Homo sapiens: one gene and its partner. The protein of the gene in region 2 binds, or shares a complex with, the protein of the main gene of each other region. Each region holds a gene or a part of one and is shown on either strand. Other genes may lie near its edges.

What was found.
Region 1: the proteins of GPSM2 (region 2) and FRMPD4 are in contact, whole or in part, in a crystal structure (PDB 4WND), measured with the Homo sapiens proteins. Residues at the interface, in NP_001307967.1 of Homo sapiens: Leu25, Ala28, Leu29, Glu32, Asp57, Lys59, Thr60, Ser62, Ala63, Ile64, Ser66, Gln67, Asn70, Phe73, Tyr74, His85, Asp88, Ala92, Gly100, Lys103, Asn107, Asn110, Thr111, Lys113, His128, Arg143, Tyr146, Asn147, Asn150, His153; in NP_055543.2 of Homo sapiens: Gln988, Leu989, Leu990, His991, Ser992, His994, Met995, Glu996, Met997, Glu998, Pro999, Glu1000, Thr1001, Met1002, Glu1003, Thr1004, Lys1005, Ser1006, Val1007, Thr1008, Asp1009, Tyr1010, Phe1011, Ser1012.

The regions. Positions count from the first base shown.
Region 1 is NC_000023.11:12,134,616-12,141,492, reverse strand, and holds the start of FRMPD4 (FERM and PDZ domain-containing protein 4), read right to left. Parts: upstream 3,021-6,877; 5' UTR 2,522-3,020; coding exon 2,481-2,521; intron 1-2,480. UniProt on the Homo sapiens protein: Positive regulator of dendritic spine morphogenesis and density. Required for the maintenance of excitatory synaptic transmission. Binds phosphatidylinositol 4,5-bisphosphate.
Region 2 is NC_000001.11:108,879,967-108,886,990, reverse strand, and holds part of GPSM2 (G-protein-signaling modulator 2), read right to left. Parts: intron 4,516-7,024; exon of another isoform or gene 4,366-4,515; intron 1,717-4,365; 5' UTR 1,469-1,716; coding exon 1,413-1,468; intron 1-1,412. UniProt on the Homo sapiens protein: Plays an important role in mitotic spindle pole organization via its interaction with NUMA1. Required for cortical dynein-dynactin complex recruitment during metaphase. Plays a role in metaphase spindle orientation.

The DNA of each region.
Region 1 (6,877 bases), on a different chromosome or scaffold from region 2:
GACACTCTAAAAAGTCAAAATATGCAGTTTATTTATTCCAGTGTCGAATAATATTCTCTTGGAATTCTCTGTAATTACACTGTCTTTACTCACAGATAGGACACTAAGCAAATATCACTTCCAAGATATGCCTTCTGAATTAACATTTAGAAGCTCAAGTTTGTAGGAACCAAAGGTAAGGCCAGGTACCCAGGGTAACTACATGTGTTTGCCTCTAAACCAAGAGAATTTTAAGCACTGAAGTAACCATGCTGATCAAAGCTAAATCCTTTAGGAAGATTATCCATTCTGAAATCAGGAAAATCCTGCAGTATAAGCACTTTCATACTTCACCTTTGAGAAAAGAACTTGCTTTCTGTAACAGTGTTTAAAACACATACAAGACTTTCTTCCTCCCAAGGCAGAAACAAGCAACTGCAAACATGTGTTTTTACATGCTGATGACCCTCTAAAGGTACTTCTATCTCAGCACGGGGACCATCCTCGGGCTCACACTAAAGAAAAAGAAGAATTCTATGGATGGAAGATTTCTTAATCGGCACATCAGCTCAGAACATTTGCACCTTCTGTCTTTAGAATAAACACTCTACTGGATCACATTAAGGATAGAAAGTGAAACTCACACTCATTTACTAAATTTTAAACTCTCTTTAAAATAAGATACCACTCTCCCCACAGCCTTGCTTGAGTTTTGCAAAAACTCAGATTTGTGAATATCATGTAGGCATCCTAGAATTTAGTAAAAAGAATATGAAACATCTTTTCACTGACACATGACACTGTCCTCTCCAAAGTTCCTAAGTTTAAGGACTAAATCGAGGCTCTAGATGTTTTGTTAAACTGTTTTTAGCATCTGAGGCCACCAAAAAGTATCCTGGTTACTTTGAACTATACTATTGGTTGAACTTCCCTTTCCCTTTAGCAGTATCTCTGTCCATCACACGGAGGGTACCACTTAGCCTCTAAACTTGCACACAGCTGCTTCCCAACCATGGTTCAATATTTGACAGCTGTTTAGAAACTAGCCCTAGGCAGAAGCATGCAGGAAGTTAATAGAATAGTGGTGTGAAGCAATGGCCCTCTATGAGATCAGCTTGAAAGCAAACAATTGGCCACACCACAATCATCCACTGCTTAACACATCAGTCTTCTGATCTGCAGGACAACACCTCTTCCTGAGCTGCTCTAAGACACAGGTATTTACCCATCAACTGCGTATCTCCAGTCTACTTAGAGTAAGCTGCACTGGGCCTTTCTGCCTGGGGAAATCTGCTAGTGGCATGAAGACTGACCCATGTTAGTAGAAAGGGAAGGTGGAGATGGGCAGGCAGAACAAAGACCTGTAGATGTCGGAGAGAATGGCAACATCCAAACAGAACCTTTCTGAAGTGGTCTAATGTAATTTAATAAAGCAAAGTCAACATACGTTTCTACCTCTGACTATTGGAAGCTGCTCATCCCTGCCTGATGCAATCAACACATCTCACTCTGACACTCAGGACTGAAGGAAAACCTGGGATTATTCTGTCCATATTGCAAGTAAGTTTTTAAGCTACATCCTGGAAAAACCCAACTGTCTACCTCCTACGTCCTGGTGGTAGCTGCTATAAAGAGCTCCAGGGGCAGAGAAGGTTGGGCATGGTTTTCTAAGACCACTCCTATTGGGCTCTTCCCAATTAATGCCACATAGCAAGCAGCACAAACCTTACTCTGTGGCTCAAACGAAGACTTTGGAAGCATAAGCAGGGCAGAAGACCTGGAGGAGTGCTCTGGCCAGGCAACACCTAGGCGGCCCAAGCGTGGAAATGTTCCTCTTTTATCAGTACTACCCAAAAATGTCTGAATCGATGATTTAGTTTTAGCTACTGTTTTAACAACATGGCCACTTAGAAGAAAATTTCTAAATCTTTCGAGGCTTAAGAATATAGTTACCCCCCCCCCAAAAAAAAAAAGGCTGAAAGTCTTTCTCTTCTATCTACATGACTTCGCCATCTAGGTTACCGTTGGGAGCACCTGGTCAATCTAGGAGCTGACTTTGTGGAGGTGTGGAGGTGTAATTTAGGAGTTGGGGGAAGGCGGCACTTTTGGTCTTTGCAGCTTGGAAGGCAGGCACCCAAGCTCCAAGCACTTCTGGGTTTCCCTAGCAGTAGCAATTACAACCATCTTCTCTTAGCCCTGAATTATACATGGGACCCCAAACACCGCTGGGGCTTTTCCTTAGGGAAAACAAACTGTCGTGAATGTCGGTGTGTTGGTGAGGGCATGTATGTACCTCTCTGTGTGTGGTCTACACCCGCCGCTACACAAGCCTCAGCAGCCAGTGAGAAATAAGTTGAACGTGGAAGCCCCCGGCCACTTCGTTTGTCTTAAGCCCCGTCGCGCTTTCCAGCTTTTGCCTCTACCCAGCCTCCCGAAAAATAAGGCACCAAGTTGCCCGCGGCAGCGGCCCTGGGTGCAAACGGAACCCGCGCAGCCCCTACCTCGAAAGCTTTGCAATCTTCACAAAGCTGAAGACATCCATGCAGGCAGCTGGGGACCCCCGAGCGCGACAACTCCGTCGCCCCTTCTCACGCCAGCAACAGCAGCCTCCGCAGCCCCATGGCCAAGACCTCAGTGCGCCCGGGGCTCGAGTCGCGGCGACAGCGGGTGGCGGCGGCGGCCGGAGAGAACCTGCACCTGGAGGCGGCGGCTGCTACCCCCCTCCGGCCGCGAGCTGCGTGTGCATCCCCGAGCAGGACCATTGATAGGCACCCGAGGCAGGAAAACTCAATGGAGAGGGAGCCAGGCAGGGCGCAAGAGGCGGGGGCGGGGAGCGCGGCCCGGGTCTCGCGCCCCGCCCCGTGCGCTCTAGCCCCGGGGACTGCCGGGCGTCCAGAGAAAGCGAGGCCTGGGCGAGAGGCGCTGCTCTGGCTTCCCGGCCCTCGGACCCTCGTGCCCCACGCACCGAGGAGCGCAGACGGAGCCGGGAGACGGCAGGCGAGCTGGGCACACGCGCACGCACCCCTCGCAGCACTGCAGCTGCCTCCCTGCCTCCTTCTCCAAGCCGAGTCCCTGCTCCTCTCCCCACCCCCACCCGCCCGGGGGGAGGGGGCACTCTCCTGTCACCCACTGCGTGTGCCTCTAGATCTGAAGGATCTGGTCTAACAGTCTATGGCACACTGGAGAACTGTGAACGCTACCCCTCCCTCCCCAAGCCGAAGGAGAGCCGTGCAACCGCAGGTTGCTCAAAGCCTCGGTTTGCTCCGTAAACAAAACTAGCGTTCGGAAGGAGCAGGGATGATTGAGGTTGGGTCGTTTGTCAAGGGGAAGGGAAGGGAGATGCCAGGCGCAGCGGGCTCGATTCGGGGAGCTCAGAGTTCCCACTGCTTCTCCCGAATCGCTGGGGCGAGACGTGACCACTGGGCTGGCTGGGAAGGTGTGTCTTTGGACAGCAGCACCGCGGGAGTGTCTGCCAAATAAGAACCGGAGGCATTTGCGGGTAGGGGGATGAACACAGCTGCTCCCTCCTCGAGGAGCATAGAGCGGAGGGTCCCAGGAGCCCGTGATGCGGAGGCTAATTCTAACCGGGCTCAGAATCTAAGGAAAGAGAAGGATTAGAATGGGGTCTGCCACGCAGAGCGAGCTGCTTTTGCACACTGAGCCTTGGGTGAAGGGAACAGGGAAGAAAAAAACAAAACAAAACAAAACCTTGCCGGAGAAGCAAAAACACAGAAACATAAACACTCACCTTAGGCAGAGTAAACTCCAAGTTGCAGCCATCTAGAACTCCTCCTAGCCTTCTCTTTTACATAATTACCTTGGATAATCAGCCCTGTTCATTAACTCAGTTCTACCTCCTGGGAGGCTCAGGCTTCATTGGGCCCCTTTTTCTTCTTCCTCTTGAAGTCTCAAGGCCTCTTCTCCACAATCCTTTAAAATTTCCCCCCAGACTGTGAAGGTCAGCTGGCCGCACTAAGTGTGTGCTCTCCCACCGGCAGCGTTCACCTGGCGGCAGGGCCACCGCAAAGAACAGAGAGCACCCCCAGAAATGTTGGAAGATCCAGCCAGTGTTCCAGTCTAGCTCTCCGAGGGGATTAAGAAAGAAATAGGTTTAAAGTTCCCACACTTCTGCTCCTCTCCTGGTCTGTTGTTATATTTAAAGTCTTCAGTATTCAAGCCTAGTACTAAAGCGTTTTTTTTAAGCATTTATTTCAAAAACTGAACATAAAATAAATAGCAATCTGCAAAATCTAAATGACTTAAAACTCAGGCATAAAATTACATGTTTTTGAATACATAGTTATCAGTTTTCCTGCAGCTTCTATTAAACAGGCTAGTTTAATTGCATGAACGCAGTTACTACTCAAGGATCGGAAGGGGCGAGAGGGACCTTGGCTTTTGAACTCTATTGTTTGTAAAATAATTATAGTTTGGGTCTGCACTGTGCTTTATAATTTTTAAAGCTTTTTTTTGCATTGGAGTCTCATCGCAACCTTTTCATATAAGGCAATATATTTAGAAATCTTTTATTTTTATGCCATAATCTATTCTCAACATACCAGACAAAAAGATGTTTTGTGTGTGTGTATGTGTGTGTGTGTGTGTGTGTGTGTGTGTGTGTGTTTTAACGTAGATCACATAAGGCTACTTGTCTGATCTAAAATATGTAAAAGCTCCCCATTGTCCGTCAAGCTAAAGTTGCGCTCCTGCAAGGGCCAACAGGACCCTAGATCCCGTATCCTTTGATCTTTCTTACCTCAACTATTACTGCCCACTTCCCTCTCCCGTTTTTCTCTGTCCCTCCTCATCCCCTACCCCGAGCCCCTCCTCTCTCACACACATACACTCACTGGGCTCCAGCAATTCTGGACTTCTTGCTATCCTTCAAACTCTACAGGTAATCTTCCCACCTTAGGCTCTTTGCAATGGTTGTTCCCTCAGCCTGGAATGCTCTTTCCTGGGATATCTGCATGGCCGGCTTCTCCACCCTGTCAAATGTATGCACCAATACCACTTCCAAAATGCCCCCTCTAGAAAGCCAATTTAAAATTGCAAAAGGTTCTCACACCCTGGACTCCGAGTCCCTATTAACTGTTTTATTCTTTTTTCTTGTTTCCATAGCATTTATCACCCACTAGCACACTATATAATTTATTTTTATCTTTAGGATTTCTTTTTTTTTTTTTTGGTCTGAATCTCCCACTGGAGCTCCACAAGGGCTGGGATCTTTGTTTTGTTTTGCTTTTGTTTTTCACTGATGGATCTCAAATGCCTAGACCACTTCCCCAGATGTAGAAAGAACTTAAGAAATATTTGTTGAACGAACAAATCATATGCCCATTGGATTCACAGCCAAACCAAAGCTGGCCAAGCATCCCCAGTGAGTACTGATCTGTGTATGACTTCGTGGCTTACATCTGTCTCTTTCCCCACCCATCCACTTCCCCAGCATCCTTCAACCTCCTTTGGACTGACTGTTAATGATGGCAACAAAGGCCTTCTTACATTCTCCAGTTATTTTCCCCCTTCACCTTTTCTACCTTTCCCCCAAAAGAGTGGCCACCGACACGTTCCCTCATCTCTGAGTCAACATCTGGCAGCACAAGACCAGCTCGTGATTGGGAAAAGGGGATAAAACAGTGCCTTTGGAGAATGTGTTTTGAAAAAGTGCTTCCTTCTGAGAAGAGAACAGTTGGGATGCTCTTTTTAAAAGGATTACCCTATTTATCAATAATTATTCCAGATACCAAATATCTAATTATTCAACAGTGAAAGTGACAGGAAATAGACATTGTGTTTACTTCTAGAGAGACAGCCTCCCTTGGAGACATCTGGTCTACCTGGAACAGCTTGCTGTTGGCCTTCTCCCTGTGCCAATTTGTGCGCTACGGTTATGAATGATGCAGATGCCATCTCTCCACAGCATAATAGCTACCAAGGGAAATGACTGACTTCTACAGGTCTTTACACACCTCTCATATAGTAATTATCTAGTATGTTTTCTAATGGATTGATATTGTTTTCTAAAGCAAAGAGATTCCACCCCTCCTCCTTTGTTTCTCATTAATACAACAATGGAAAAAGCTGCTCCCTTGAAACATGCTAACACAGAGTGTTTATATCTTTAAGCCATCTTGGCAGAAGGGCAGAGATTGGAGTAGTTGGTCTCTCAGCTCTGTCCCCTCTCTGTGCCAGGTGTGTGCTGCAGAGGTTAGGATAGGTTTGTCTAGCATGAACTAGATCTGCCTAAAACAAATAAAAGCCAAAAAAGTGGGATCCTGAGTACATATGTGGTTTTCTGAAGTTTTCTTATTAACCTGGATGATCTCTAAGGCCCCTTCTGGATCTTGTAGGGATTTACTAGTTGGAAACTGTATTATCCAACCTTGAGAATCTACTTAATTTGCTTTACTTAGGTTCAAGTGACATTTGGTCATTTCTGAAAACCAGACACACTTTCAAACACTGTTGAAAGTACTCATGAATAAAAGACTCAGGGTCACCAGATCCAGAGCAAGTCCTATAACTTCTCTGAGACTCAGTTTCCTCAGCTGTAAAATGGAAATAATACATCTTTACCTTACACAAAATGAGCACTTGAAGTTGGCACCAGTTTACAGTTGGCTACATATGAGTTGAGGCACATGAATATTAGCTCTAGAAGGATTTCCACAGCTGTCTGCAGCCTTGGCAGTACTGGTAGGAAAAGTTTCAGCCTGTAAGATGACTATTTAGGAGGCCCAACATTCGCTTGGATTAATCAGAGGTAGGCACTTTTGCCTAAAAATCAAACACTTTGTTGCCTGGGCAGTTACTAAAGCCCTAGGCTGTAGCATTTTTTATGCCCCGGGGGATTCTCAGGGGGAAGTGTGAGGAGCTTCATCATTCTTAAGGCCTT
Region 2 (7,024 bases):
CGCTTTAACATGGGAGGCGGAGGTTACAGTGAGCCAAACTCGTGCCACTGCACTCCAGCCTGGGCGTCAGAGTGAGACTGTCTCCAAAAAAAAAAAAACAAAAACACAAAAACACACACACACACACTCTTCAGATTTTCAGATTTCCTGGGCTCTTCTGAAAAATCAGGAAGACCTGCCCATTCTGTACCTTCATTCTGCCCAGCTATCACTTCCTGGCTATCTTCCCTCCTTTCCTGATGTGTATGTCTGATTTGGATCCTGATCTAGATCAGTGGGAAGCATCCACCCCCACCAACACACATACATGTGCATAACCTATTATATATAAGGTGTAGCCAAAGGGAGTGTGTTGTATTTGTGAAAGACACTTGTGGATGCAGAACAAAGGTGGGAACACTGGTCCTTACAATCTGCAACCTTCTACCAGGAATGTAGACAATCCATTTGGGCATCCAAGGGAACACTGTAAGTCCTAGAGGAGCCAGGCCATTTCCCTAGGGACCGTGAAGCTTGTGAGAGAATGCATGTGGGTGCCTTTCCTCAGCCTGACTTGCTTTCTGGAGTAAATTAGGGATTACCAAACCACTACTTCATGTAAAAATGTGGTCTTAAGTATTAAATCAGCAAAACAACACAAAATGTCACTAGACATTAAGCTTAAAAATGACATTTCTTTTGAACAGCGCTTGTTTGTATTTTAATAATAATGTATTTATATTAATGTGGATTAGGTACATATTTAAAACAGTAATAATGGTTGTGAAATAAAATTTCCTTTAAAGATAAAATAAAAAGCCAGGTGCAGTGGCACACACCTGTAGTTCCTGCTACTCTGGAGGCTGAGGCAGGAGGATTGCTTGAGCCCAGGAGTTTGAGACTTGCCTGGGCAATATAGTGAGACTCCCATCTCTGATAATATAGAAAAAGTAAAATTAATAAAATAAAAAATATACAAAAAAAGGAAATGAGAAGGGAATCAAAACAATACACTACAAAAAATAAAAATAAATCAAAAATAAAAAGTTCATGTCTAAAAGATCACATTAAATTACAATGCAAAGGTTTGGTCCTTCAGCTGACCACATTTTTAAAAAATCCACCTTTTAGCCCCAAAGATTTTCAAACATATTTCATTTACATATTTGCATTACATAAAAAGTTACAAATTATAAAGAAATTATTCATAAACTCTTCCAGAGAACATTAAACAAACCATAGTACATAATTGGTCTCTACTATCATTTTCTTACAGAAAGGAAAACTTACAACAAAAAGAAAATATTGTCTACAGACAATACTATGGCTGGTATATTTGAGTATTTTCAACTGAAACTTGAAATGGTCATCAGAGTTAAAAACACTTTAAAATAAGGATTAAAAGTCATCCATTAAGACAGCAATAGTCTTACCTGTAACGAACATGAAAAGAATGGTCTTCTCTCATGCTTATCAAATTTTCCTCCATCGAGTCATATTATAAGCTGAATAAAATAAAATTATTTTATTTTGTGCCAATCCAGTCCTTTACAATGTAGAATTGTTTGTAGAACATTGTCCGGTTAGTATATTAATGAGTTGGTGTTAATACATCCTAAGCTCCTGATTCTTCTTTATTAATAATGAAAGGAGGTCAATGTCAGACAGCTTAAAGGTTCAAAATGTATCCCAAATCCTTGCATCTCTGGCCCTTTCAGCAGCACTTCAGCAACATTTCTGCAAAAGGAATACAAGATGCTTTGCTTGAAGTCCTATTTTCAAAGAACAACCTACAGTAACCCTGAGCTGTACATAATCACAAGCTAACTCTGCAGACTGCTGTCATGTCAATCAATACAGAAGATAGCACAGGGCTTAACTGTCATCATGGAGCTTCTAAATAGGGGTGGGAATAGATGAGATTTGAGAACTGTAATTTTTAAAATATGTTTGAAATTTAATACTTTTATGTAATATTTTCTGCTATAAACAAAAAAGAACAGTATGTATCATATTAGCATCTAAAAACAAAATTGCTGCTTCAAACTTTTAAAAACTACTATTAACAAATCAAATGAAAATTCAATAATTATTTGAAATAGTCAACTCCAAACTCAGTAAATTTATTTCTTCAAAGAAGATATCACACTGATACTTCGGTTATAGTTGGATTCATTTGCTTTCAAAATATATTCTACTTAAACTCTTTAAGGTCTTTAAAATGTTTTTTATTAATATTGGGTAGGTACAAAAGACATTTGGGAAATATGTATATGGTAAAAAGAATGACACAACAAACATTTATATAACACCATTCAGTCTAAAATAAGAACATTACCTGCCTTTAAAGTCTCCTGGGTAGTCCAACCTAACCCATCTCCTTCCTTTTCCCTCTAAGGTGATTTCTAAACTGTATTTTGTTCCTTATTCCTTTGCTTGTCTTTACAACTTTAACACGAATGTCAGTATAGTCCTAAATAAGATACCATTTAGTTTTATATGATTTTGCTGAACGTTGTTTCTGAGATTTTTCTCAATTGTTGTGCATAGCTACAACTTGCATGTATATTCCATTGTATACCAAATGTATTTTTCATTCTGCTGTTGATGGACATTTGGATTATAGTTTTTTGGATTGCTGTTACTAACAGTATTAATATTCATGCCACTGCACTCCAGCCTGGTTGACAGAGCAAGACCCTGCCCCAAAACAAAATGAAACAAAAAACTACCATGAACACTGATATTAATAACTCAATGTACTAGTTAGGGCCAGGTGCAATGGCTCATGCCTGTAATCCCAGCACTTTGGGAGGCAGACACAGGTGATCACTTGAGGCCAGGAGTTCAAGACCAGCCTAGCCAACACGGTGAAACCCTGTCTCTACTAAAAATACAAAAGTTAGCCAGGTGTGGTGATGCAAGCCTGTAATCCCAGCTACTCAGGAGGCTGAGGCATGAGAATCACTTGAACCCGGGAGGTGGAGGTTGCAGTGAGCCTGAACCCGGGAGGCGGAGGTTGCAGTGAGCCAAGATTATGCCACTGCGCTCCAGCCCAGGCGACACAGTGCAACTCTGTCTGCCCCCACCAAAACAACAACAACAACAACAACAAACCCTCAATGTACTAGTTAAGCAGCTAAAGAAAGAATAAGCAGATGAAAAATAATAAAGAGAAGTTCAGAGAAAAGGAGGACAAAATGAGCAGCTCTATAATATATCTAATAGGAGGGTGAGAAAGAAAAAGAGAGGAATAAAGGTAAAATCTTCAGTGATAAAGACTGAGAATATTTAAATAAAAATGAATCCATACCGATACATTAGAGAGAGCTACAGCATATCAGACATAAACTATAACCTCTGAGATAACAGTTGAGAAAGACAAAGAAGGATATACATATACATATATGAGATAAATTGGTAGATATACAATCATAAAGTCCTGGAATCTCAGTGTTATAAACAATCCTAGAGGTCAGTTAGTCCACTATCTTACTATAGCATTCCTACATAGGTCATAAAGCAGCTAATCTTAATTTTGAATATTCCTGTAAGAAAATCGTTCCATACTTTGAGCAATTCTTCCATTTCTACCCATTTGTTCTACTTCTTCCTTCTGCTGCCATATACAATAAAGCCTAATTCCTCTTCTATATAACATCCTTTTAAGTATTTCAGCTATATCATAAACCAGACTAATGAATACTCACTGCTCTGTTAATTAAGTACAGCTAGAAGTTAATAGGGAACAGAGCAGAAGGTGAAAGGAGGGAAGGTAGAAAGAAACAGCCTTGGGAATACTGATGAAGTTTCCAAGAGGAAATGAGGTTTTCACATTAATAACAAGTTTAGCCTGCAAGAAACACAAAATAGTACTCCTCTTATCTCTTCCCTTGGCCAACAAAGGAAGCACTATCTTTTGTTGTTGTTTTGTTTTTTTAGAGATGGGATCTTGCTATGTTGCCCAGGTTGGAGTACAGTGGCTATTCACATCACAATCATAGCACACTGCAGCCTGGAACTCTTGGTGATCCTCTCGCTTCAACCTCCCAAGTAGCTGGGACTACAGGTGCATGCCACAGCACGGGCTAGGGAGCAGTATTTTAAGAAAGAACAAAAAGGTAGCAGCTATCAACACATCAAATAGCAGCTATCAACACATCAAATCTCTTTTCCTTTTGTTCAGAATTCCACTGTGCCTCTTTTTTCCTTAATAAAAAAATTAATAAAGGGAATTAGTGTGGATACTCATTGCAATAGCTCCAAAGGCGTCTAGATTACACAAACAGCTAAACTGGCAATGATATTATCTCCCGTTATCCACTATGAGGTTTGGGCTGTTATTTATAAAATGGAGCAGAAAGAGAGGTATTAGAATTAACTTACCTTAGAATTAAATTAAATTATAGTAGGTCCTCCAGATCTGTGGGTTCTGCATAGTGGATTCAACCAACCGCGTATCAAAAATATTCAGGAAAGAAAATGAAAAGTTGTGTCTCTACTGAACATGTAGACTTTTTTCCTTGGCATTGTTCCCTAAACAATACCATATAACAACTATTTACATAGCATTTACATCGTATTAGGTATCATAAATAATCTAGAGAGGATTAAAAGTTTGTGGGAAGATGCGTATAGGTTATATGCAAATACTATACCATGTTATATAAGGAACTTGAGCATCCATGGATTTTGGTATCCTCAGGGGGTCCTGGAACCAATTCCCCACAGATACTGATATTAAATTTAAATATTTTTCTTAGGTAGGCCCGGTGGCTGACATCTGTAATCCCAGTGCTTTGGGAGACCAAGGTGGAAGGATCACTTGAGACCAACAGTTCAAGACCAGCCCAGGCAACGTACAAGACCCCGTTTCTACAAAAAATTGAAAAATCAGCCAGGTGTGGTGGCCTGTGACTATAGCCCCAGCTACTTGGGAGGATGAGGCAGGAGGATTGCTTGAGCCCAGGAGTTGGAGGTTATAGTAATCGATGATTGCACCACTGCACTCCAGTCTGGGCCACAGAGTGAGACCCTGTCTCTAAAAAAATAAAACAAAATATTGTTCTCATCCATGAGTTCTTAATGAAATTCTAAATTTTGCAATTATAAAATGTTAATTTCATACTCCTTAAGATGTAAACATGTAGCATTTACATGTTTCACAAATTAACGAATAAGTAAATGAATATAAATAAAGTTGCAAAATATTTTACTTGATGAAAACTGCATGTAGAAAGAACCATTTCTAAGACCATTAAAATAAGCAAGAAGACAGAATGCTATTCACTATTTCAATAAGAGCAATTTATAATATAGTCTTACTATTCTCAAGGGAAGAATATCTTTAAAAGTGCCTCTTACATTACAATCTCCATAACAATTAGGTAGCACTTCACACAAAAAAATATTCACTGAACAAACAAGCAATTCTTGATTCATGATTCATGTTTTAAGAACTCTCTAGCCAATTTAGCAATAATGTGTTCACTCATGTTCCTCATTACATGGAGTTAACAAACCTACTTCCTAGATACAATGTGTGTGTATATAGTGTAAGACTAGTAAAATTTGCAACAAATATTAAATTACAAATTTGATCATTAGGATAAGAAAATTTAATCACAGGACGAAGAACTGGAAAATAATTTGTAGGTTTGAAAGGATATTGAGAAGTCATCAAGTTCAACCTCCAACCTCCACTACTATTTACAACTAACAATCTGCAAGGAACAAATCTGTCTCTTAATAGCATCTTCCAAGCAATGCTCCAAAAACCTCAAAATTAACAAAATTGCTAGATCACGGCATCTAACCATAAAGAAAAGGCAATCATTTTTTCCATATCCCGGGAATTGACAGAGACATATAGAAAGATCAACTAGTACATAACTCTAACTGCCTCACATTTAATTATCTGATTAGGAAGTCAAAATAGACAGACTCCCTTTAGACAGCTAGGTGGACTTCCAGGCACTGTCCAAGGTATGCAATCAGAGCAGACAAGAAAGGCTAGCTCTTTATCAAAGAAATCCTAGCCCTGCTTTACTCCACTGGCAGTAAAAAGTTTGCAAACCAGGTTACATTTTGTGCTTCTTCGAATTTATCTAAACTATCTGATCCTGACTGCCACTTAAATGCCAATAACTTTTGGTCTGTTTCTTTGTTTGTTTTTGGTCTGTTTCTTCCATCCATGGATCTACACAAACTGGTAACATTCATCAGACAATAAATATAATTTACTTTTCTTGCCACCAGGTTAGATCATCTGAACTATATATAAACCTTTTTGGTAAGCATAGCCATTTATTATTACCAACGATGGTCCAGTCATCAGCTTCAATCAATTAATACATATACATAATTTTAAAGCTCAATAGTGAAATAGAAAAGAAATGGTCCTTTCCACTAAGCATTGTTTTTTTTTTTTTTGAGACGGAGTCTCACTCTGTCGCCCAGGCTGGAGTGCAGTGGCGCCATCTTGGCTCACTGTAACCTCCACGTCCTGGGTTCAAGTGATTCTCCTCTCTCAGCCTCCCACAGGTGCCCAGCACCACGCCTGGCTAATTTTTGTATTTTTATCAGAGACAGGGTTTCGCCATGTTGGGCAGGCTGGTCTCGACTCCTGGTCTCAAGTGATCCGCCCACCTGGGCCCCTCAAAGTGCTGGGATTACAGGTGTGAGCCACTGCACCTGACCCAAACACATTTTAAAGCAGAAATAAATCCCAAATGCAGAAATATTATAAATGCTTAGAAAGGGTCCCTAGAGAGTTTGAGTTTAGAATTCTCCATAGGAAAATATATTAAACATGATTTTGTCTTCTCTTCCCAAAAGTTATCACCATTCTGTGGGAAAATAAATGTTTCTATTCAATAATGTTTTGTGATAATATGGGAATAATAATTCTAACTGAAAAGGACCAGGGAAAACTTTTTGGAAGCAAGGAATTTTGTACAGCACCTTGAAGGATGGGTAGATCTTATTAGCCAAATGAAGGAAAGGCATTCCAGTCAAGGGAAAAGAATGGCTCAAGAAAAAGGGA